Homo sapiens: one gene and its partners. The protein of the gene in region 1 interacts with the protein of each later gene in a pairwise test. Each region holds a gene or a part of one and is shown in the gene's direction. Other genes may lie near its edges.

Region 1 (7,347 bases):
CCCCCCACTCTACCCATACCATTAGGATAGTTGTGTTTTCCTATTCTGAAGTAGTTCAACTTTTATACATTTAGACTATAAACTTTAATTTATTTAGATATTATAGGCCACATCTTAGTGGCCTTACTTTACATCTTAGTAAAAAAAAAAAATTTTTTTTCAACTGAAGTTAAGTTTTACCTTGTTACCAGATTCAGAAGAAGATGTTGTTGAAACTCCTGCAGTGTCTCATGATGAACATACACACCAAGAGATAAAGGGCCGAAAAACACTGGCAACTCCTGCAGTTCGCCGTCTGGCAATGGAAAACAATGTAAGTTCTCTTAATATTTAAGTCTGAGATTGTATAGGAAGTGTACATTTGTATCTCTGAAAAATTAGCCAACTATCCCATGATGAAATAGCTCAATGAAATTAAGGAAACATGAAGATATTTGCTACTGAAAAGCAATAGTTGCATAAAAATACATGGGAGAAATGAGAAGTTGTAAACTTATTACTTACTATCAATTGAGCAGTATGATTTTATTATTCTTTCTTAGAGCCTAATAACAGTAAGAGCTACCATTTACTGAGCACTTGTAAATACCAGGTCTTATGTCAGGTGCTCTAGAGGCACAGCATGAGATAGGAATTTGAAGGAGGGAAAACCTGTAAAGGGACTGAAGGAAGCAAGATAAAAAAGAGAAGAGAAGGGAAATTGGCCAGACATGGTTATGGTATCAAGCATCTGGCCTGTCCCAAAGCTTGCCATGGTCCTAAGTAAAAAAAGAAAGACTCTGGCCTGATCTGAGGGTGCAAGGGAGAACCACAGAATTACTGCTTTGAGGCAAGGAGGCCGGCCTTTTGTATTTCCTCTGCCAGTCATTGACTGAATGGAAGGTGGAATGCCAGGCAGGGTGGCTCCCTGGCACTGGGATAGGTATTTACGTATTCTCATTTAACCCTGTAAGATAAGGAGCTATTTTAAGACTTGGAGGGTTTAAGTAACTAGTCTAAAGTCACACAGCTAACATAGCAAGAGCCAGAATTCAAAAGTGAGTCTATATCACTCCAAAACCTGTGCTGTTAGATGTTATATAAACCTCAACAATCATTGCCTCCATTATTTGAGCACATATGTGCCAGACACTATAGACACATCTGTAATCCTCACAAGGACCCTGCAGGCAGGTTGATTAACTTATCTAAAACCAAGTAAGCTGAACTAGGGATTTGAACACAAATCTGTCTGGTTCTGAAACCTGAATACTTTCCACTGTGCCCCACAATGAGACTTTTTGTTTGTCTCTTTTTGAGAAAAGTAAGGTTGCTGTGGGAAAAAAATAAAAGTTTATATTTTGTGAAATATGTAATAGAGTCATTAAAATGTTCATATTCTTTCAGCCAGTTATCCTGCCACTGGGGAACTATCCCAAGAAAATAATCTAGGAATCATTCTTCCTTGTATTTTATATAGCCAAAAATTAGAAGATGCATACACATTCAAATTATGTTATGTATCCTTGATAAAATGTTATGTAACCCTTAAATGTGTTTAAGTATGAAGACCATTTAGCATAACAGAAAATAGATATAGTAACGTGGAACATTAGGTTATTAAGGGCATCAGATGAAATAATGATTTAACATTTTGCTTTGAAATCTATAAAGCATTTTAATAATTTTTTTCTTAATAATATAGAAAGAAATATATAGAAGAAATGTATGATTTGGCTTTCCTAAAACACTCCCTAAAGATGGGTATAGAATACTTGGGTAGAGTGCTTGTATGATTACTAAAAATTAAATATTGGATTTAGTTATCAGAAATCATCTTTTTTCTTTGAATTTGCATATTTATGAATTGAGTTTGTTTAAAATTAAGAACCAGTGGCATTTACAGTTGTTTGTAACTGCCTAAAAATTATTTGTTTAAATTTTCATAGTCCATTTGTTACAAACTTAGTGTTTGCCTTAGTAAAGTCCTTTATTATTTTAGTCATCCTTAGAGATGCACTAATACAAATGAAATGGGGCCTATCCCTAAGAAATTAATACATACTATATATGAGGAGATCATTCCAAGCTTTTATGTTTATTTTTATTTAAATAGAATTAAATGTTTTGTACTGATCTTTCCAAAGCAACTACCAGAAAAATAACTAATTTGAGAGAGCTTTTGTATTATGATTATTTAAGTTGTTACGTTTTTAACTGGTAGCCAGTGTCAGAAACATTGGTCTAAATTTGGTATAGCATTTAGTTTCTCTTAAATTCTCAGCTCTCCCTCTTCTTATGTAGTCCCCAAGAATAGAAAAGGTCGAGTAAGAATTATGCAAGAGATTTTAAAATACTTGAGTATAAAAATGTAAGTTTTCAGCTGGGCATAGTGGCTCACGCCTGTAATTCCAGCACTTTTGGGAGGCTGAGGTGAGAGGATAGCTTGAGGCTAGGAGTTCAAGACCAGCCAGGGCAACAGAGTGAGACCCTGTCTCTACAAAAAATTTTTTTAAAAAGTAAGTTTTCATAAATAGCTCTAGATTATATATAATATAGATACCTGATGGTTACCACATGCATATGTGAACAGTATATACAAAAGTAATGATTACTTAAGTAGAAAATGAAAAGGTTATTTCCTTTTACTAATTTATTGGACAGATATATTTTACTGTCAGTTGATCAAATTCCATTTTGAAACTTTAATGATGTTTTTAAATAGTTGTATTTTTGGCATTAAAATATATCATTTTTTAGATTAAGCTGAGTGAAGTTGTTGGCTCAGGAAAAGATGGCAGAATACTTAAAGAAGATATCCTCAACTATTTGGAAAAGCAGACAGGAGCTATATTGCCTCCTTCACCCAAAGTTGAAATTATGCCACCTCCACCAAAGCCAAAAGACATGACTGTTCCTATACTAGTATCAAAACCTCCGGTATTCACAGGCAAAGACAAAACAGAACCCATAAAAGGTAATGATAATAATAACAATACTATAAGGCAATAGTTCATTTATTTTGGGGGAAGCTACCTCAGTAGATAAATGTATATAATATGGTGTTTTCAAGTCTTACTGAAGGGAAAGTTCAACTTCAGTCAGCATATAATTTTTCTTTTCTTTTCTTTTTTTTTGAGATGGAGTTTTGTTCTTGTTGTCCAGACTGTAGTGCAGTGGCACGATCTTGGCTCACTGCAGCCTCCGCCTCCCAGGTTCAAGCAATTCTCCTGCCTCAGCCTCCTGAGTATCTGGGATTACAGGTGCACGCCACCATGCTCAGCTAATTTTTTGTATTTTTAGTAGAGACAGGGTTTCATCATGTTGGCCAGGCTGGTCTCGAACTCCTGACCTCAGGTGATCCACCCTCCTCAGCCTCCCACAGTGCAGGGATTACAGGCGTGAGCCACTGCGCCTGGCCATAATTTTTAAATGGTGAAATAGCATAGCTTTTCCAGGAAACACTTACAATTTATGTGTATCATTATCTTCTGAAGAGTAATACGTTAGCAGGTTTCTTGAAATATAAACTTGTATATTGATAATTGCTCTGTTTGAAGACACACAGGACATTTTAAACATTCACTATTTGTAGTTAGCTTTCAAAATAACTAGTTCTGATTTGTTATTTATAAACTCCTGGAATGATTAACTTCCAGAAGAGTGGCTTTGCAGGAAAGCTGTTAGGGAAATACATGGCTTGCATTCTTTTGAATTTTTTATATAACACAGCATTTAAAGCAGTTACCTGCTATGTTATTGCATTTGCCACTGAGTGTCATGATGCAGTCAGTGTTCCAGCTTTGAAATTAGTGACTTTCAGTGTAATGTAATGAAGAGAGTAGTAAGAGGAAGGGTTTAACTGAGAGAGTAAAAGACATTAGAGAACCTTCCATTTTAGTTTCTTTAAAAAAAAAAAAAAGGATGAAGAGATTTGAGAATTTAAATAAATGAATAACAATTTAATGCTTTTCAGGCTTTCAAAAAGCAATGGTCAAGACTATGTCTGCAGCCCTGAAGATACCTCATTTTGGTTATTGTGATGAGATTGACCTTACTGAACTGGTTAAGCTCCGAGAAGAATTAAAACCCATTGCATTTGCTCGTGGAATTAAACTCTCCTTTATGCCTTTCTTCTTAAAGGTGAGATTCATTCATTTCAAACAAGGCTTGAGTAGGACATTTATTTGTTTGTTTGTCTTTTTGAGACAGAGTTTTGCTCTTGTCACCCAGGCTGGAGTGCAATGGCACAATCTCGGCTCACTGCAACCTCCACCTTCCGGGTTTAAACAATTCTCTTGCCTTAGCCTCCTGAGTAGCTGGGAATACAGGCACCTGCCACCACGCCTGGCTAATTTTGTATTTTTAGTAGACACGTGGTTTCGCCATGTTGGTCAGGCTGGTCTTGAACTCCTGACCTCAGGTGATCCACCCCCGCCCCAGCCTCCCAAAGTGCTGGAATTCCAGGCGTGAGCCACCATACCTGGCCCCAAGTAGGACATTTAAATTTTGCTTTGCCAACATGCAATATGTTGACTGTGGCCTTGAATAAAAATATTACTTTTCGCAACATCAGATAGTTAGAAAATGTGCCATTTCTTTGTTCAATAGGAAATTATAAAATTGAGATTTCTGTACTATATTTTTAGCTGCTTATCTTTGAGCTAGGTAGAGACAATTCTGCCAGTTAAGTAAAGCCTCTGATCCTAAAAGGATCACTCCAACCAAGTCTTGGTTTGAACTAAAATGAGACTTGATATTAATTTTGCAATATCACTGACATATATTTAATATTTATTTTCATTTACTCAACCAACTTATATTGAGGATCCTGGGAATCATTTCTAGTGCTAAGCCTTGGGACCAGTATAAAATGGAGTAAGACCATCAGCTAACCTTGAGCAGCATACAGTCTAGCTCACATTAGTGACTGTGCAGCAGCTACCATGTGCCAGCCTCCATAGTAAGCATGCTGTATACATTATCTCTCTCTTTTTTTTTTTTTTTTTTGGTATGAATCTCATTTATTGAAAAGATTATTTCTCACCTTTCTCAAATTGAAGACTGCAAAAAATAAAAGCAGTGCTTCATTGAGTTGTCATGAGCCTGGGGCAGGAGCAGCAGCGCTGCCTCTCCACGCTCCGGGAAACCGCAGCTGGCGTGTGCCACATCGGTCCCACCTCGCTTTACAAAACAGTCCTGAAGCTTAATCAAATAAAACTATTGAACACAACATTTACATTAGAAAAAGAGAGCTGGGTGTAGGAAAGGCCGAGCCTGGTGTTCCCTTTAAGCGAAGGTGGCTCCACAGTTGGGGCATCTTCGCTCCCTCAAGGCAAAACAGCAAATGAACCCAAAGGGGAACAGGATGATGGCCAGGAAGATGCCCAGGAAGGTGAAGCAGTCCTGCAGCCCCCCGACCCTGCAGACGGGACAGCCTCCCACGACCACGATAGAGTTGGTAGGATAGCGGATGACGGTCCAGCTGTGGATGTTGTAGACCCTGGGATGGTGGGTGGGTGTCCGTGTGACGAGGTAGGAGTAGGGCGGCTGCGGGGGCGCGGCGGGGATGGCGCCGTAGCCGTGCGGGCCTCACGCGTAGTCGCCCTGGCCGGCCTCCAGGTTGTAGGCGGGCGGCCGCTCCTGCAGCAGAGTCTTGTGGTCCATGGCGGCCCGGCTCGGCTCTGTCGGCCCCGGCGGGGACGCGGCGCACGCCCCGGGTGGCTCGGGCCCCTCTGAGGCAGACGCGGGGCAGGGCCCATTATCTCTTAATTCTCAGAGTAACCCTGACATGTAAATATTACTGTCTCCACTTTCCATTTAAGGAAATTGGGGCTCAGAGAGGTTGAGAAACTTGTTAAGGACTTACAGCTAACAGGTGGAGAAGCTCTTTCAGGTTCTGGTCTGTTTTACTCAGAAGGACATACTGATGTCTGTAATGCCAACATGTCCAGTCCTTTCTCTACACTGCACCAAGACTGGTCTTCCGTAAATCAAATTACTGTAATATTCTCTGATTCTTTTCAGTGGTTCCCTTTCATTACCTTCAGGATAATTTGTATGCCATACTCCTTAGTGTGGCATACAAATGTGTTATAAGTCTCTGCTGCCTGCCTCTCCATTCTTACCTCACTCCCTCATATTAAGGTACCCATAATTGCTGGAATACACAATTCCACCTGAAGTGCCCGTTCTTCTCGATCAAACACCTGCAAATCCCAAACTGTGGTCAGGTACAGACTCCTTCTGTGGCTGTCACTATTTGAATTAAATACTTTTGTTTCCCACTGTTAACTTATCTCAGTGCATTGAGTGCTTACTCAGTTTTCTCTTCACTTACTCACTTACTGGGCGCTGAGCCTCATGAGGCAGAAACTATTCTTCTTTATCTCCCTTTTTCTTTCTTTCTTCTTTTTTTTTTTAGAAAGGGTTCACTTTGTTGCCCAGGCTGCTGGAGTGCAGTGGCACAATCACAGCTCACTGCAACCTTGAACTCCTGGGTTCAAGTGATCCTCTGCCTCAGCCTCCCGAGAAGCTGGAACCACAGGTGTGCACCACCACACCTGGCTAATTTTTTTTTATTCTTAGTAGAGATGTGTCTCGCAGTGCTGCCCAGGCTGGTCTTACAGGGATGAGCCAGCATGCCTGGCTATTTTGTTTTAAAATAAAACATAAGTTTCAGAACATTCGAAAAAATACTACACAGTATTGTAGAGGGGGAACAAATGACCTAATCCATTGACACATACCTTGTATTTTCTTGGACAAAATTTGGATTATACTCAAATATTTTTATATGTAACAGTTTAGACTAACCTTAGGGGTTTTTAGATAAAGACTATTAAAATTACAGTTATTGAATCAAATGCTTACTAAAACTTTCAAGTTGGCTGGGCGCAGTGTCTCACGACTGTAATCCCAACACTTTAGGAGGCCAAGGCAGGCAGATTGCTTGAGCTCAGGAGTTCAAGACCAGCCTGGGCAACATGGTGAAACCCCATCTCTACAAAAAATACAAAAGTTACCTGGGCATGGTGGCACACGCCTATAGTTCCAGCTACTCGGGAGGCTGAGGCAGGAGGGTCACTCGAGCCAAGGACGTTGAGGCTACAGTGAGCTGAGATCATGCCACTGCACTGCAGCCTAGGTGACAAAGAAAGACCCTGTCTCAAAAACAAACAAGAAAAACTTCCAAGTCATAAAAATTAAGGAACTCGTAGCAGTTCTTTTAATTATATTTTTCTTCAGTTGATCTACTCTCTTAACCTGTCCTAACTAATGAAAATGAAATGTCTCTATATATTTAAACTTTTTTCTTAACTCTCTAGTTCAAGAATTTGATTTTTTTCCCATCAAGACCCCGATGCA
Region 2 (7,381 bases), on another chromosome or scaffold:
AGGATAAAAAAGCTGGGTCCCATCAGAGGTTGTCAAGTGTGCTCTATGGAGCCCTGGAAGTTCTACAGAGCCTAAACAGGGATGGCCAAAGAAAGGGTAGTAGTTGACAAAAGATTTTGGTTCCATCTCTTCTCCCTTTTAGTCAGAGCAACTCTGAGCTCTTATTTTATATACAGCTCTGATTATTACTTTTACTCTAAGACAGGGTTCTTCAGATTTAAGAAGTCTGCAAACTGCTTAGCATGGCACTTGGCACTCAAATCATTTAATGAATGAATGAAAACCAAAGGGACATGATTTCTAAGGTTCCTTACAACTCTGACCTTCTATAGTTCTATGGCTGCTTAATATGAATTACAGTCAAGTGGTCTCCTCTGCCTGTTTGCAAAGGTACTGAGACTTCTGCTTGTTCCTTTATTCTGGGTACAAATGTATTCCCAAGGCTGATTCTAGAGAATAATTCCCTAGAGCTACTAGGTACAAGGATTCAAATAGTTGGAAATGGGAGAACGTCTTTGGCAGATAGGAAAAAAACAGGTATATGGATTAAAGGATACCCAAGTCTGTGTCCTTGCAGTAGCAGAGTCCAAATGTAAAAAAAGTGACAAGATAACAGGCTAACAACATCTTATCTCTCCGAAGACACGATGTAAGTAAAAGGGTCTAAGTATATCCCACACCCCTTGAAAATTCTTCTTGACATCATCACCACAAAACATCCCAATATTGTAGGTAAAAAACTAAGGTAACTTAGACTTACTCGGTAATTTTGGGGTCCAGGTTGCCAATCCATAATCGGTGTCCTTCCTGCAGAGAGCCCTCTGAAAGGATGGATGCATTCTCCAGGGGAAGAGTTTTGGTTTCTGCTTCCATCAATGTCTATGAAATACTAAAGGAAATGTGAACATTCAGGCAGGAGGGGAGTAACAATGTGTGAACACAAGACTTCAAATTCAACTCAACAAACATTTATTCAAGGAGGGCATGCCCTCTGGGCAGTCCTTCAAAGGCCTCAGTGATTCCACAACCAGGGCCCCAGAACCAGTTCCCTTGGGACAACTGCTCTGGCAGCCAGGGCACACAAGCTGCCATTTAAGGTGAAAGGGGCGTGGTTCTGTGTGGAGAAACTAAAGTTTTCCTCCTCTGAAGCCAGAGGCTGACTGGGCAGGAGGCCAAAGTCTCTATTACTACATGATACTTCAGTTCAACAACTGTCACCCAAAATAAGCCTTGGAAACCACCAGGAAGAGTCTTAATGGCATTAAAAGGGATGGGTAGGGAAGAGCAGCACTCCATCCCTTTTCCTCATGGAAGAGGCAATATAGCAAAGAGAAGAGGCAATATAGCAAAGAGAAGAGGCAATATAAGAAATCTGTGCGTAGACAGAACTGGGTTTGAAAGCAGGTTGTGTGACTTGATGAACTACCTGAACTTTCTAGGCCTCAGTTTCCTCATTATCTAGAGAGATAATAGTGCTTATTTTATAGAGTTGTTGTGAAGATTAAAGACAGTAAAAAAATCACTAAATACTGTATCTAACAACAGTAAGTAATCAATAAATACTAGCTATTATCATGCTTACTCTTTTGGGACAGACCAGGAAGAAGAGACTAATTTCCTCCTTAGTTATTCAAGTTCCACCATTTGCTAGCTATGTAGCCCTGTGCAAGTTACTTAACAGCTGTTGGCCTCAGTTCCCTCATCTGTAAAATGGGGATAATGCCTCATGAAATTACAGTGCAGATTCACTGAGTTAATACACCTAGAGCATTTAGAACCGTGCATGGCACCTAGGAAGCATTCAATTAATGTTAGCTTAAATTATTACTAGTCTTAGTTCCTGAAATGTCTCATCTCACAGCCAAGGAGAAAAGAGGATTATGATTATGATGGAGACAGCAGTAGAAAGAGCAGAAACCTTGGTGTCAGAAGACATTGTTTCAAATTGTGGCATTTCTTTCTTTCTCTTTTTTTTTGTTTTTGAGACAGACTCTCGCTCTGTTGCCCAGACTCATGGGCGGTGGCACGATCTCGGCTCACTACAACTTCCACTTCCCGGGTTCAAGCAATTCTCATGCCTCAGCCTCCCGAGTAGCTGGGATTACAGGTGCATGCCACTAAGCCTGTCTAATTTTTGTATTTTCTTGTAGAGGCAGGGTTTCACTATGTTGGCCAGGCTGGTCTCCAACTCCTGACCCCAAGTGATCCATCCACGTCGGCCTCTCAAAGTGCTGGGATTACAGGTGTGAGCCACCATGCCCAGCACAAACTGTGGCATTTCCACTGGAAGTTATTTCTTTCTGAGCTTCAGTTTACCCATCTTTAATAAATTTTGCCCTGTTTATAACTTAAGGCTTCGAGGACCAAAAATGAGACGACAGATGTGAAATAAAGCTTTAGGGGCTGGGAGGACAGCAGGCTGTGTCAGAGTTCAGAAGTCCCTGCTAGAGAACACATATCCTATACCCAGAAGTACCTCAGAGGTCAGCACTACAGGAACCATGGAGGCAGTCACAACAACTGCCATTACCTCTTAATCATCTCAGCACACCCTGTAAAGTCTAGCACAGCAGTCCCTAGGTAATTGTTTATTGAATACCCTGCACATGAGGGTATTTTTCTTCCTTTCCCATTCACATCTTTAATCTGTTCAGCAATGTAAGTCAAGCAACTAGGAACTGTTAAACTCTGGGCTATGTACTGAAATAGACAAATGAAAAAGCCACAGCTCTTGTTCTTACCTCCTGGGAGAAAGGTGAAACAGACATAAATTTAATCCCAGGGGAGACACATTTTTGTCTTCCCTCTGCTTTCCTTTCCCCCTACTTTTTAAACAAATCATTCATTCAAAAAATAAATTCACTGCTTCTATTATCTAGGACTTATCCAGTTACTGGAGTCAGAGCAGTGAACAAGCAAGGTCCCTATCCTCTGGATGCTTGTATTTGGAAGGGGAGCAGGACAAAACAAAAGCAAAATAAATAAAGAAGATATAATTAGTGATACATGCCACAAACACAATTAAGCAGGGTGATGTGACAGGGACTCGACGACTATAGATTGAGTGGAGGGAAGGCCTCTCTAAAGGAGATGACATTTGGGACTTGAATGATAGGACATTCTGATTTTCTCATGTCTAAAATCAGGAATAATACCAATAGCTATTAATATTTATTACCACGAAAAGGTACCATGTTTTACTGGTAAGAGTGCAGGCTATGCGGGTCTGGGTTCAAATCCTGACTTTTGCACCTAGTAACTGCACCTTTAGCAAGTCACATGACCTTTCTTTAAGCATCCTCTCGATAGAAAAGCTTTCCTAAACAGAGTTCCTTGTTATTCTATATCATAGCCACTTTTCCATCTTTTTCCTCCTACTAAATGCTAATTCAATGTATTACTTAATGTTTCCTCTTCTATTTCCTTCACTAGAACGTAAGCTCCCACAGCACAGGACCTTGCCAATCTTGATCACGGTTCTATTTCTAGCACTTAAGTACACTGCCTGTCTCACGGTTGGTGCTTAATATTTACTAAATGAAGCAAGCCGCTTCTCCACTCGAAGACTTAGTTTCTTTTTCCTTCCTAGAATGGGTACAATTTGTCGTCTCACGAGGTCGTTGTGAGTCTTAAATAAGACAATTTTGGTGACAGCTCAGAATATGGCTTTTTGAGGAAAGGTAAAGGGTAATAAAAGATCAAGACGGCACGGGACTATCAAAATGCTTTGCGTTTGCAATAGCAACAATCCTTTAGACTACCAGAGTTCACAAAACGCGGTTACATTTGTCTTTCCAGCTGAGCTGCAATAACTCTGGAAGCCAGAAATAGTCATCTGGGGAAAGTGCAATCCAGAGAAGAAGAGACACCTGATCCTAACAGCAAGCGGTGGGGTCATGCCTGGAACCCTGGCTTCCCGATTTCTGGCTGCGAATTCCTACAGGCGAAGGGTCATTACTCGGATTGTTATTTCCGGGCCAGCGACAGGACAATCCGGGGCGGGGCCTGAGATGCAGTCCTGCGAGGGCGGCCTCCTGTAAGACCTCTTAGCGGGCCCATCGCTGAGGTGCAGGGACATGTCGCGGCCGAACTCACCTCGTGGCCTCGGCGTGGTGCTCTCAGCTCATGCCCGGAAACCAGGTCCCGACGCCGCGGTCAGACGGACCTCTAGACGCGTCCGCCTCAATGCCGCCAGCTGCCAGGCCGCCCGTGACGCGTTAAGCCTGCGCCGCCTCCTGGCTTCGTGACGTCACGACGTCCGCGCAGCTGCGGTCGCCGCCGTCGCACGAGTCTTTCCTTAGTAACCTGGGCGATAGCTGGTGAGTGTCCTTGACAGGGCCTCGAGGGGCGCGTGTGGTCTGGGTGCCAGAGACCCTTACTCAGGGACCTCTGGGGGACCTCAGGGGACCAGACTACCGTCCCCGACCCGTTCGAGTCCAGCTTGACCTTTAAGGCTGAGGGCGGGACCTGTGGCATTGGAGCGAGTCTCATGGGGTGGGGGCGGGGCTCCTTTTACCAGCTAGGAATTTAGGGGATGCTGGAGGAACTTACTAAAGAGTAGCCGCACACTTGACGGGAACGTTTGAGTTTCAGAACAATCCCATAGGAGTAGATATTATTATCTCCCATAATGAAGAAACGGAAGCTCACATAGGTAATTTTACCAGGGTCACGCGGTCAGAAAGTGAGGGCGCTTAAATTCAGACCTAGGGCTATCCGACTCCTAAGCCTGGACTTTTAACCACCACTCTGTGCCACCCAGTGGCAAAACAGTTGTCATTTCAGTAGCCCTTCTCCATTTACTTAACCCTGACAAATAGTATTGTCATTTACGTTTTACAGATGAGACGGAAGTCCTGAGAGTTTGACCGATTTAAGGTCACGTGCCTAGGAAGTGCTGGAACCAAGACTCGGAGTTTTCTCTAAGTTTAGTGCCTTTATTTTGTTTTAAACCACACTGTTGCATTTCCCCCCATTTTGGAAAGCTTTATAGTTGGAAAGAATGAAAACCTGATCTGACCCCTTCATTTTATGGTTGAAACAAAATCTACGTAGGAGAAATCACTTGGTACAAGTCACAAGTCAGTGGTAGAGCTGCCGCAAATGCTTTTTGAATACGTGTGATTATGAATCTAAATGGCAGATGGCAGGGAGTGATAAGGTAGGCATACTGGAATCCAGATCTCTTAACTCTTAGGCAAAAGCCCTTTCTCTACCTGTTAAAGTGTCTCATTCCTTCTTTGGCCGTGCCAGGTGCATAATGATTCTGTGTATAGTCAGATACTACAAGTACCTTTCTTTACCTGGTACTGCATTTAGAGAAGAACATCATCTACTATCTCTAAGCAAAAATCTGGCAAACCAGAGACAGTGGAGGCAACGCTGGGAAGCCCAGAACCTACCATAATAGTAAGGGTAGATTCCCATCCGATTCTGGTTTACCCTGGATAAGGAATTTATCTTTCTGGACTTTCACTGATGTATTCATCACATTCACAGTGTCTTCTGTGTTCTGGCAATGTACCAGGTACTGGGGATACAGCAGTGAACAAGAAAATCATAGATTAGTCCTTGTAGTACTTAGAGTCATATGGAGGGAATTAGACAATCAAATAATTACACAAATGTTAGCTTGTATTGTTAAGAATTAAGTGCTATGATGAAGTAAAGGGTGCTATGAAAGCAGACTACAGGACACTTGACCTAGTTGGGCTGTAGGAGATGGCCAAGGAAGCCGTCCTCTGAGGAAGTGATGGTTAAGCTGAAATCTGAAATAAAAACGGAGACAAACAGTTAAAGAGGTGAGGGAAGATCATCAAGGAGATTCAATGGCATGTTTGAAGACCCTGGAGCAGGGGGAGCCCTGGAGAAGTGAAAGATCACTTTTCTTATTTTGCAAAATACGGGTGGTGATTATCACTCTTTAGTTATGAGAACCAGTTAAGATGGTACATGTGAAAGTATTTTATATGCAAGAGCCTGCGTATATGCACACTCATAGAAGTGCTTATGTTATAAGCTAGTATACAGCTGCATTGAAAAGAGTTGCTGGGACAGTAGATAAGCCAGGATTTTGGGTTGGTCATCTAGCCAAAATTAAAATGAACCTTCTGTGAAGAACAGGGAAATCGTTTGAGACCCTCAACTTTGGAAAAAGAATGTGTGCTTCAAGTAGTTTAAAAAAATATTTCAGTCTGTAATCTCAGCACATTGGGAGGCCCAGGCGGGCGGATCACGAGGTCAGGGGGTCGAGACCATCCTGGCTAACACGGTGAAACCCCGTCTACTAAAAATACAAAAATTAGCTGGGTGTGGTGGCGCACGCCTGTAATCCCAGCTATTTGGGAGGTTGAGTTAGGAGAATGGCTTGAACCCTGGAGGCGGAGGTTGCAGTGAGCCAAGATTGCGCCACTGCACTCCAGCCTGGGCGACAGAGTGAGACTCCGTCTCAAAAAAAAAAAAAAAGAAAAAAAATTCAGGCCGGCGCAGTGGCTCACGCCGGTAATCCCAGCACTTTGGGAGGCCGAGGCGGGCAGATCACCTGAGGTAAGGAGTTTGAGACCAGCCTGGCCAACATGGTGAAACCCCATCTCTACTTAAAATATATAAAAGTTAACTGGGTGTGGTGGTGGGTGCCTGTAGTCCCACCTACTCAGGAGGCTGAGGCAGGAGAATCCCCTGAACCTGGAAGGCATAGGTTGCAGTGAGCTGAGAACGTGCCACTGCTCTCCAGCCTGGGCAACAGAGTGAGACTCTGTCTCAAAAAAAAAAAAAAAAAAATTTAATAGTTGGGATGCTATTATAATAGCTACAATTTATTGTGTACCTACTGGATGCCAGGCATTGTACTGTGTGTATGTGTTTTGTTAAGTGACTAGGTCTCACTATATTGCCAAGGCTGGCCTTGGACTCCTGGCCTGAAGTGATCCTCCTTCCTTAGCATCCCAAGTAACTGGGACTATAGGCACCCATCACTGTTCCCAGCCATGCTGAGTGTTCTATATGCATTGTATAGCAGTTAATAACATAGACTCTAGAGCTAGATTGACTGAATTCAAATCTTGGGCAGATTTTTGCTTCTGTTTTCTTATCTGTAAAGTGGGAATAATCATAGTACTTACTTCAGGGTTATCATGAGGCTGAAATGAGTTCATGTGCATAAACCACTTAGAATAGTTTCTGTCACGTAGTCATTGTTATATAAATGTTAGGTATTGTCATTATTGTTATCTTTTAAAGTCTCATTAATATCACTATGATGATGATGTGGAAGCTGTAGCTCAGAGAGGCTAAATGACCTCCCCAAGGTCACACAGCTAGTAAGTGGGGGAATTGAGATTCCAGTTCCAGACTGCGTCCAAAGCTCAGACACTTCCCCACA
Region 3 (7,427 bases), on another chromosome or scaffold:
AATCCCAGAATAACCGTGGCCACTTTGCTATAGGGGTTACATATTTTAACCCACCTAAGGTTTTACAGACTTTAGCCTCACTCAAACTTTATCACCCTCTGAGGTAGCTGGAGACCACAGCAGGAAAAATAACCTGACCAGTAATCACCCACTGATTAGTGGCAGAGCGTAGGACTTAGGGGTTATAAGCCCAGATCCAGATAGGGCTAGGTTTGAGCCATGCCTCTAATGACCAGCTGGGTGACCTTGGGAAAGTCACTTGATTGCTCTGATTCTTGTTTTCCTTATCTGTGAAATGGGACTAACAATTGTTACTTTTCTCCCAAGATTGTTGGGAAGATTTAATAAGATAATATATAGTAGGCATCTTGCATAGTGTCTGAGAAATAAGAAATGCTCAGTCAATAGTGGCTCTCATTAGCCAGGCATGGTGGTACTCGCCTGTAGTCCCAGCTACTCAGGAGGCTGAGGCAGGAGGACCGCTTGAGCCCAGGAGTTTGAGACTGTAGTGCACTATGATCACGCCTGTGAATTGCCACTGCACTCCAGCCTAAGCAAATAGCAAGACCCCATCTATTAAAAAAAAAAAGTGGCTATTATTAGCTATATCAGAAATGTCTGACTCACAAGCCTGTGTTCTTTCCACTGAAGAGGAAATTACTTTTCAGTGTTCTTTTTTAAAACGTGGATCCTGAAATGTCACCTAACTCTCCAACTATGTCTTCAGTGTCTGTCATACTCTTTCTTATGCAGTTATTTTGGGGTTAAGTGTCTTTTCTCACCAACAGATGAACTCTCAGAGGAGTGGCTGGGGGTAATTAATAATTAACATTTATCAAGCACTCACCATATGTCAGGCACTGTGTCAGCCATGGCCAGCTTCACAGGCATGCAACCTGTGCAGTCACACAGGGCCCCATGCTTAGAAGGGCCCTGTTCTTGGTTTAATGCTCTACTATTGCCTTCTTAATCATATTTGAACAAGGAGTTCTGCTTTTCCTTTTGCCCTTTAAATTAGATAGCCAGTCCTGGTGCTAACTAACCACTTTTCTAGGTATTATCCCTTTAGTTTTCACTGAAACCCTGAGATAAGTTATATTGCCCTAGTTTTCACAGTTCAGGAAATGGAAGCTCACAGAGGTCAGGTAACTTGTCCAAGCTCCCATAGTTCTTATATTTACATGCTGGTGGAGCCAGCATGTGAATATAAGAAGTCTGACCCTAGAGCCTTATTCTTAATTTTAAAGCTCTATGTCATCCATATATCTCCCTCCCCTTGTACTGCAACATTCAGAAGCACACTAGCACTTAATAAATAGACGAATGAATGCATGGATGCAAGCAGCAACCTGGTGAACGTTAGGCAGCTAGGAGAAATGTAAGCAAAATGGCTAAGGCACAGATGCCACTTGTTCTTGGTTGTTAAAATGCCTTGTTTAGGCCAGGTATGGTGGCTCATGCCTGTAATCCCAGCACTTTGGGAGGCCGAAGCGGGTGGATCACTTGAGGTCAGGAGTTCAAGACCAGCCTGGCCAACATGGCAAAACCCCATCTCTATCAAAAATACAAAAGTTAGCTGGGCACGGTGGCACATGCCGGTAGTCCCAGCTACTTGGGAGGCTGAGGGAGGAGAATCACTTGAACCCGGGAGGTGGAGGTTGCAGTGAGCCGAGATCGCACCACTGCACTCCAGCCTGGGCAATAGCAAGACTCCATCTCAAAAAAAAAAAAATGCCTTATTTGGTTGTGTTTTTTCAAAGTGTAAGCCACAGGTCTAAGCCCAACACTGCCAAGTGTTCAGTCTGTCAGAATTCTACTGTCACTGTTTCCTTATTGCGGGATCTTGCATAGGTTTACCAACCTTTCTGAGCCTCAATTTTCTCATATGTAAAAGAGAATCATAATACCTCCCTAAACCATATCACCCTTTTCATAAGGCCAAAAAGAAAATATAAGTTATTGGTCATGACACATTTGAGTTGGACCTCGGATTAGATAAAAAGATGAAAATACTCCAGCTCTGTCCTCATGGAACTCAGAGACAAGCAGGAAAGAAAATGTGACCCAAATAACTACAGTACAAATAACCCATGTTATGACAAGATTCAGAGTGCTCAAGGAACACTTCCCATTCCCTTAAAAAAAAAAATTAAGGGACTATCCAGTAACTAAGCTGGCAACTCCAAGTGCCCTGGACCCCAGTCACCAATCCATCCTCTCAGTCTGTCAGCTTTCCATCCTAAATCTCTAAAATTCATCCATATCTTCCTATCTTCACTGACACTATCCAACTTAATTAAGTCATTCAACAAATACTTGAGTACCTACTATACTAGATGTCAGAAATCAGTGGTGAACAAGACAGACACCTCATGAAGCTCACATTCTAGTTGGAGGAAAAAACCTTAACAAGGAAGCAAAAGAAATAAAATACTAAGAAACTAAAAGGGTGCTGGACACAGTTACTTTACAGTGGTTAGGAAGGTCTCTCTCTGTTCTTCCAGGACAGAATATAGCCCCATCTTGCCTGGGCTACTGCAACATATTGCCTTCCCTACCTCTTTTCTTACACCTTGCAATCTGCTTCACACAGCAGTCAAAGTGACTCTTTAAACATGAAAGCCTTTGTCACATGTTCCCTGTCAATCTAAAATAATTTAAAAGGTCAGAATCTAGTTTAAAGAGAGTTTATTCAAGCACAAAGGTTGAGGATGGCCTGCCCAGGAAGCACAGAATGGAAAAATATGTCTGTCTTAAAAAAGATGGAAGTCAGTGTTCCAAAGTGTGAAAGGTTGGGTTCAGTGAGGTTTAACAGAATTTCAACATCTTTCTATGCAAGGCTTAATGCACAGTTACAATGATCTGAGTAGTTAAGGTGGTCTTTTTCCTTCAAGAAAGGTACATTTAACATCACATCCTGCAGATGTAACTGTCATGGGGTCAGTTCAGTTCAGGGCACCATCTAGTCTGAGTTAGGTGCAGGACAATAAAGGAGGCTGTCTATTACAAACATCAGTAATTGAGAGGGAAGAAATCTGGTCTCTGCTCTTTCCTAGTCATTACAGAACAAGAACAATGAGGAAGAGAATTAAGCTATAATTCTAAGAAGCAGAACTACAAAACATGCTACATGGACTCAGACCACAGCCACATCTCTCTCAAAGCTTCAAGTATTTGGGAGGTTCCAACAGCTTTTAGGTTTTATTTATTTTCACATTCCATTGCAATCAGAATCAGACTAAATTGCATTCAGCAAAAAAGTTTTTTGAAGCCGGGGGCGGTGGCTCATGCCTGTAATCCCAGCACTTTGGAAGGCTGAGGAAGGCAGATCACCTGAGGTCAGGAGTTCAAGCCCAGCCTAACCAACATGGTGAAACCCTGTCTCTACTAAAAATACAAAAATTAGCCGGGTGTAGTGGGCGCCTGTAATCCCAGCTACTGAGGAGGCTGAGGCAGGAGAATCACTTGAACCTGGGAGGCAGAGGTTGCAGTGAGCCGAGATCGTGCCACTGCACTCCAGCCTGGGTGACAGAGTGAGACTCCATCTCAAAAAAAATAATTTTGAACACCTACATTAGGGCACTGCTCAATGGGAATGAATAGACAATATCTCTGCCTTAAAAGAGCTTATATTTTAGTGAGAGGAAATGAGAAAATACACACTATTTAAAAAAACAATTCAGTCGATAAGAAGGGCATTAGAGAAAAAGACTGGGAGGAGTGATGGGCAATGGTTCAGGCTGCGATGTTTTAAACCGCTCACGTGATCTAGCCCTTCCTAACCACCAGTCCTGTTGCCCTCCCGCCTCAGTATATTTCAGTCCCTTACATGCAATACTCTTCTCTCTTTATTAGGCTTCTGCAGATGTTTCCCTCTGCCTGAACCCTTTCTTCAGCTCAGCTCAAATACCCCCTTCCTCTGGGAAAACTTTCCACAAGGCTAGATTTCTATTCTAGGCTTCCGCGACACCTGCCCCTCACCTTCAAACACCGCTCATATTCTGACTTTACATCCCGCTTGTATCTGTTTATCGCTCATAATATCAAGTAAGCTCCATGCGGGCACAGCTATGATCTGCTTTCTTTGCTGCCGACCCTGCGCCCAGCACGGAGACTGTAGTTACTACTAGGACCTCGCCTACCCGCGGAACACACTGAGAGCCGGAAGTGTTGCCTTAGCTCCGGACGACCGGATGGGGAACGGCGCGGCCCATCGGGCAACCGGAAGCATAGCGTTCCTGTCCGGAAGTCCTGAGAGGGAAACGCCCGCAAAGGCTGGTTTTTAAGCGGGAGCATCTCTTCACTCGCAGCAAGTGCGCGTGCGCTGCCTCTCAGCCCAAATTGGAAACATGGCCGTACGGTCGCTGTGGGCGGGCCGGCTGCGGGTGCAGCGCCTACTGGCCTGGAGTGCCGCGTGGGAGAGCAAGTAAGCATTGCAGGCGGGGAGTCGGGAGCGTGAGGACTCTGAGGGGCTAGCGAGCCAGCCGGGGTGGTTGTGGGCTGGAAGGCGAGAGCTATCTGAGCGTAGGCCAGGGGACCAAGCTTCTCGGCCTCTACGACCGTGCACTCACGGCCCCATTTTACAGACGGGGAAACTGAGGCCATCAGCCGTGCCTCTTTCTTAGGCCGAGGAAGGTAAGGAGATCCGAGGTCATGCATGGCCTGGAAGGTGAGAAGTCTCTTAAGCCCCCAAGGGAGGGATGTACCACTCTCCCGGCCTCTTCTCCCAGCCTGTGGTACCTGTGGGTAAATTTGGGTTCTCTCCCCTCACTCCGTGTGACCTAAGGCCAGTCCTTTCTCCGTTATCCGGGCACTGTTGTACCTGTCAGTAAAAGGAGGCCGCTGAACTTGTTTCTCCAAACGGCCATTGCATCAGCCTTCGGAAGACAAGTTCCATCGGCAGCTTTTATTGGTCGCTTACGAGGCCGACTGCAGAATTATGGGTGGTTCTTTTTATTATTACCCATTTAGTAGTTAAGGAAAGTGAGGTTTAGAAAAGTTGAGTAACTTCCAAACTTAAATATTTGGGAAGTGGTGGAACCCGGGCTGGAAACCAGTCAGGGCGTTGGAATCGGCGCTCTTATTTAATGAGCGATGTTAATTAATTTTCTCAGAGACTGTTGCCCCTACACTGTTTCTTCCTGGGATAGAGAATAAAAATAGTTGAGTACGAGGTAGGGTTGGACCTCTGAATAGTAAAGTAAGCTACGGGAGAATCTGGTAAATGTGCTTAACTACATATGTCACCCTTTTTACCTTAACACACCTGACCCAACATCCTACCCTAGCACCTAAGTGAGAGGTTGCATTCAGGGTTTCGGGACTTGGTTTTGCTTACCGTTCTCAAGTCTTTTTGGCAGCTTGTTGGTGATGTAAGGAAATGACCAGAAGAAAAATGGTTCCTTCTGGTAAGCTGTCTCCCTACTCCAGTTCTGAAGCAGTAGGAATTGAGATTGGCCACAACTCCCCAACCCTATTTCTTGGTCTAAGCTTTGGCCATTTTCCCTTTGAACTGGCCCTGAGAATTTTTTTTTTTTTTTTTTTTTTTTTTTTTTTTTTTTTTTTGAGACGGAGTCTCACTCTGTCGCCCAGGCTGGAGTGCAGTGGCACAATCTCGGCTCACTGCAAGCTCCGCCTCCCGGGTTCACGCCATTCTCCTGCCTCAGCCTCCCGAGTAGCTGGGACTACAGGCGCCCGCCACTACGCCCAGCTAATTTTTTGTATTTTTAGTAGAGACGGGGTTTCACCGTGGTCTCGATCTCCTGACCTCGTGATCCGCACGCCTCGGCCTCCCAAAGTGCTGGGATTACAGGCGTGAGCCACCGCGCCCGGCCCCTGAGAATATTTTGACCTGCTTTTTCAAGTGGATAAATGTGGTTTTTTTAGGGAGAAGATGTTTCACCGTGTGTAATTAGCCCCAGATCTACGGTGACCATATTTTCTGACCCCAAAATGTGGAACTGTCTATAAAATCACACACCGGATTATAATAATTGAATTTAAGATCAGCTTGGAAAGTAGGAGAGATAAAAGTCCTCTTGCTTACACCTTTAAACTAGCTATTTGCTCTGCCCAGGATGCTCTTCCCTTTTCTAAAGCTGACTCCTTTACCCTCTTTAAGCCTTTGCTCAGCTGTCTCCGTGAGGACCACTCTACAGTATATGCCAGTCCATAAAAATTGTTTTAAAGAACTCATGTACTCACAGATTGATTTTCAAGATAATTTTACTTACAGTCAAATTACGAAGATCCAGGAGTTGCAGTGGAAACTTCCTTGAACTGGGCCAGGTCAGGACTGCCACAGCCCAAGATTTGCTGTAAACTAGCCCCTAGTCTAAATTTATTTCTGTGTAAACTGAACTAAATGTCAAAACAGTTTAGCTGTACAAAATTCTAGATTACATAACTAGTTGAATGCAAAGATCTATTTTCACCTGTGTCTATTCACCGGCAGTAACATATAGTATTGTATAAGTATTTCATTGACTTGATCTTATTTATAGGTGGGAATTTCTTTCTCAGCACAGGTCTCCTAAAAGCCTTACAGGTTGTGGTGAGGAAGGCTTAGAATTCTAAGCCTTAAGGTCCCTTTACTGGACTTAATTTCCCTCATCTGTAAGTTAGAAGGTTGAACCAGAACTATATGACTTTTTGAATGCCCACTTCTGACAATGCTCCTCTGGTTCTGGGTACTAGCATTTGGTTTCCTTATGCTGACTTTTGTATACCCAGTTCTGGCTATTTCTGCTGCCTGGTTCTTAGTGTCCTGACCCAGCGGAATACCAACTATGTGATCTTGAGCAGGCCATTATGCCTTAAGCCTCTCAGCATCAGTTTTCTCATCTGTAAAATAGGGATAATGATAGGACTTATCTCACATATTGTTGTGAGAGGAAAAGATGACTCAAGTAAAACAGTGTCTGGTACATGGTAAGGACTTCGTAAGTGTTCATTTGTTACTATAACTGAAAACACTTTCTCCAGAGATTCCATCTGGGAAGATCTCTGGTCTCTAAACTTGGTTGTAATTTTGGCTTATGATGGCATTTCTTCATTATGTGCCACCTCCTTCCTGTTTTAGGGGATGGCCGCTTCCATTCAGCACTGCCACCCAGAGAACTGCTGGTGAGGACTGCCGTTCTGAGGACCCTCCTGATGAGCTTGGGCCCCCTCTTGCTGAACGAGCCTTAAGGGTAAAAGCTGTTAAACTGGAGAAAGAAGTCCAAGATTTAACAGTGAGTCAATTTTATATTTCTTCTTCATATCCTCTCTCTAGTTTAAATATCCACATAAAGTTTTTTATGTCAATTTTCAAAATGAAGTTTTCTTTAATTGGCTCTTTATCTGCTACCCCTCATCCCTCCTCCACTCCTTGCTAGGTATACTGGGCAGAAAAAAACTGTAGTAGTTGAAAAACACCACTGGCT

The links.
Region 2: the proteins of DBT (region 1) and MRRF interact in binary tests that used the Homo sapiens proteins (3 or more experiments, as listed by UniProt).
Region 3: the proteins of DBT (region 1) and GRPEL2 interact in binary tests that used the Homo sapiens proteins (3 or more experiments, as listed by UniProt).

Annotation. Positions count from the first base shown.
Region 1 is NC_000001.11:100,211,592-100,218,938, reverse strand, and holds part of DBT (lipoamide acyltransferase component of branched-chain alpha-keto acid dehydrogenase complex, mitochondrial isoform 1 precursor), read left to right. Parts: intron 1-191; coding exon 192-313; intron 314-2,739; coding exon 2,740-2,956; intron 2,957-3,955; coding exon 3,956-4,122; intron 4,123-4,988; exon of another isoform or gene 4,989-5,716; intron 5,717-7,347. UniProt on the Homo sapiens protein: The branched-chain alpha-keto dehydrogenase complex catalyzes the overall conversion of alpha-keto acids to acyl-CoA and CO(2).
Region 2 is NC_000009.12:122,260,620-122,268,000, forward strand, and holds the start of MRRF (ribosome-recycling factor, mitochondrial isoform 1 precursor), read left to right. Parts: upstream 1-4,262; 5' UTR 4,263-4,319; exon of another isoform or gene 4,320-4,654; intron 4,655-4,842; exon of another isoform or gene 4,843-5,126; coding exon of another isoform or gene 5,127-5,161; intron 5,162-7,381. Other genes in the region: RBM18 (probable RNA-binding protein 18), read right to left, coding at 761-873. UniProt on the Homo sapiens protein: Responsible for the disassembly of ribosomes from messenger RNA at the termination of mitochondrial protein biosynthesis. Acts in collaboration with GFM2. Promotes mitochondrial ribosome recycling by dissolution of intersubunit contacts.
Region 3 is NC_000005.10:149,341,191-149,348,617, forward strand, and holds the start of GRPEL2 (grpE protein homolog 2, mitochondrial precursor), read left to right. Parts: upstream 1-4,308; 5' UTR 4,309-4,349; coding exon 4,350-4,426; intron 4,427-6,925; exon of another isoform or gene 6,926-7,081; coding exon 7,082-7,235; intron 7,236-7,427. UniProt on the Homo sapiens protein: Essential component of the PAM complex, a complex required for the translocation of transit peptide-containing proteins from the inner membrane into the mitochondrial matrix in an ATP-dependent manner.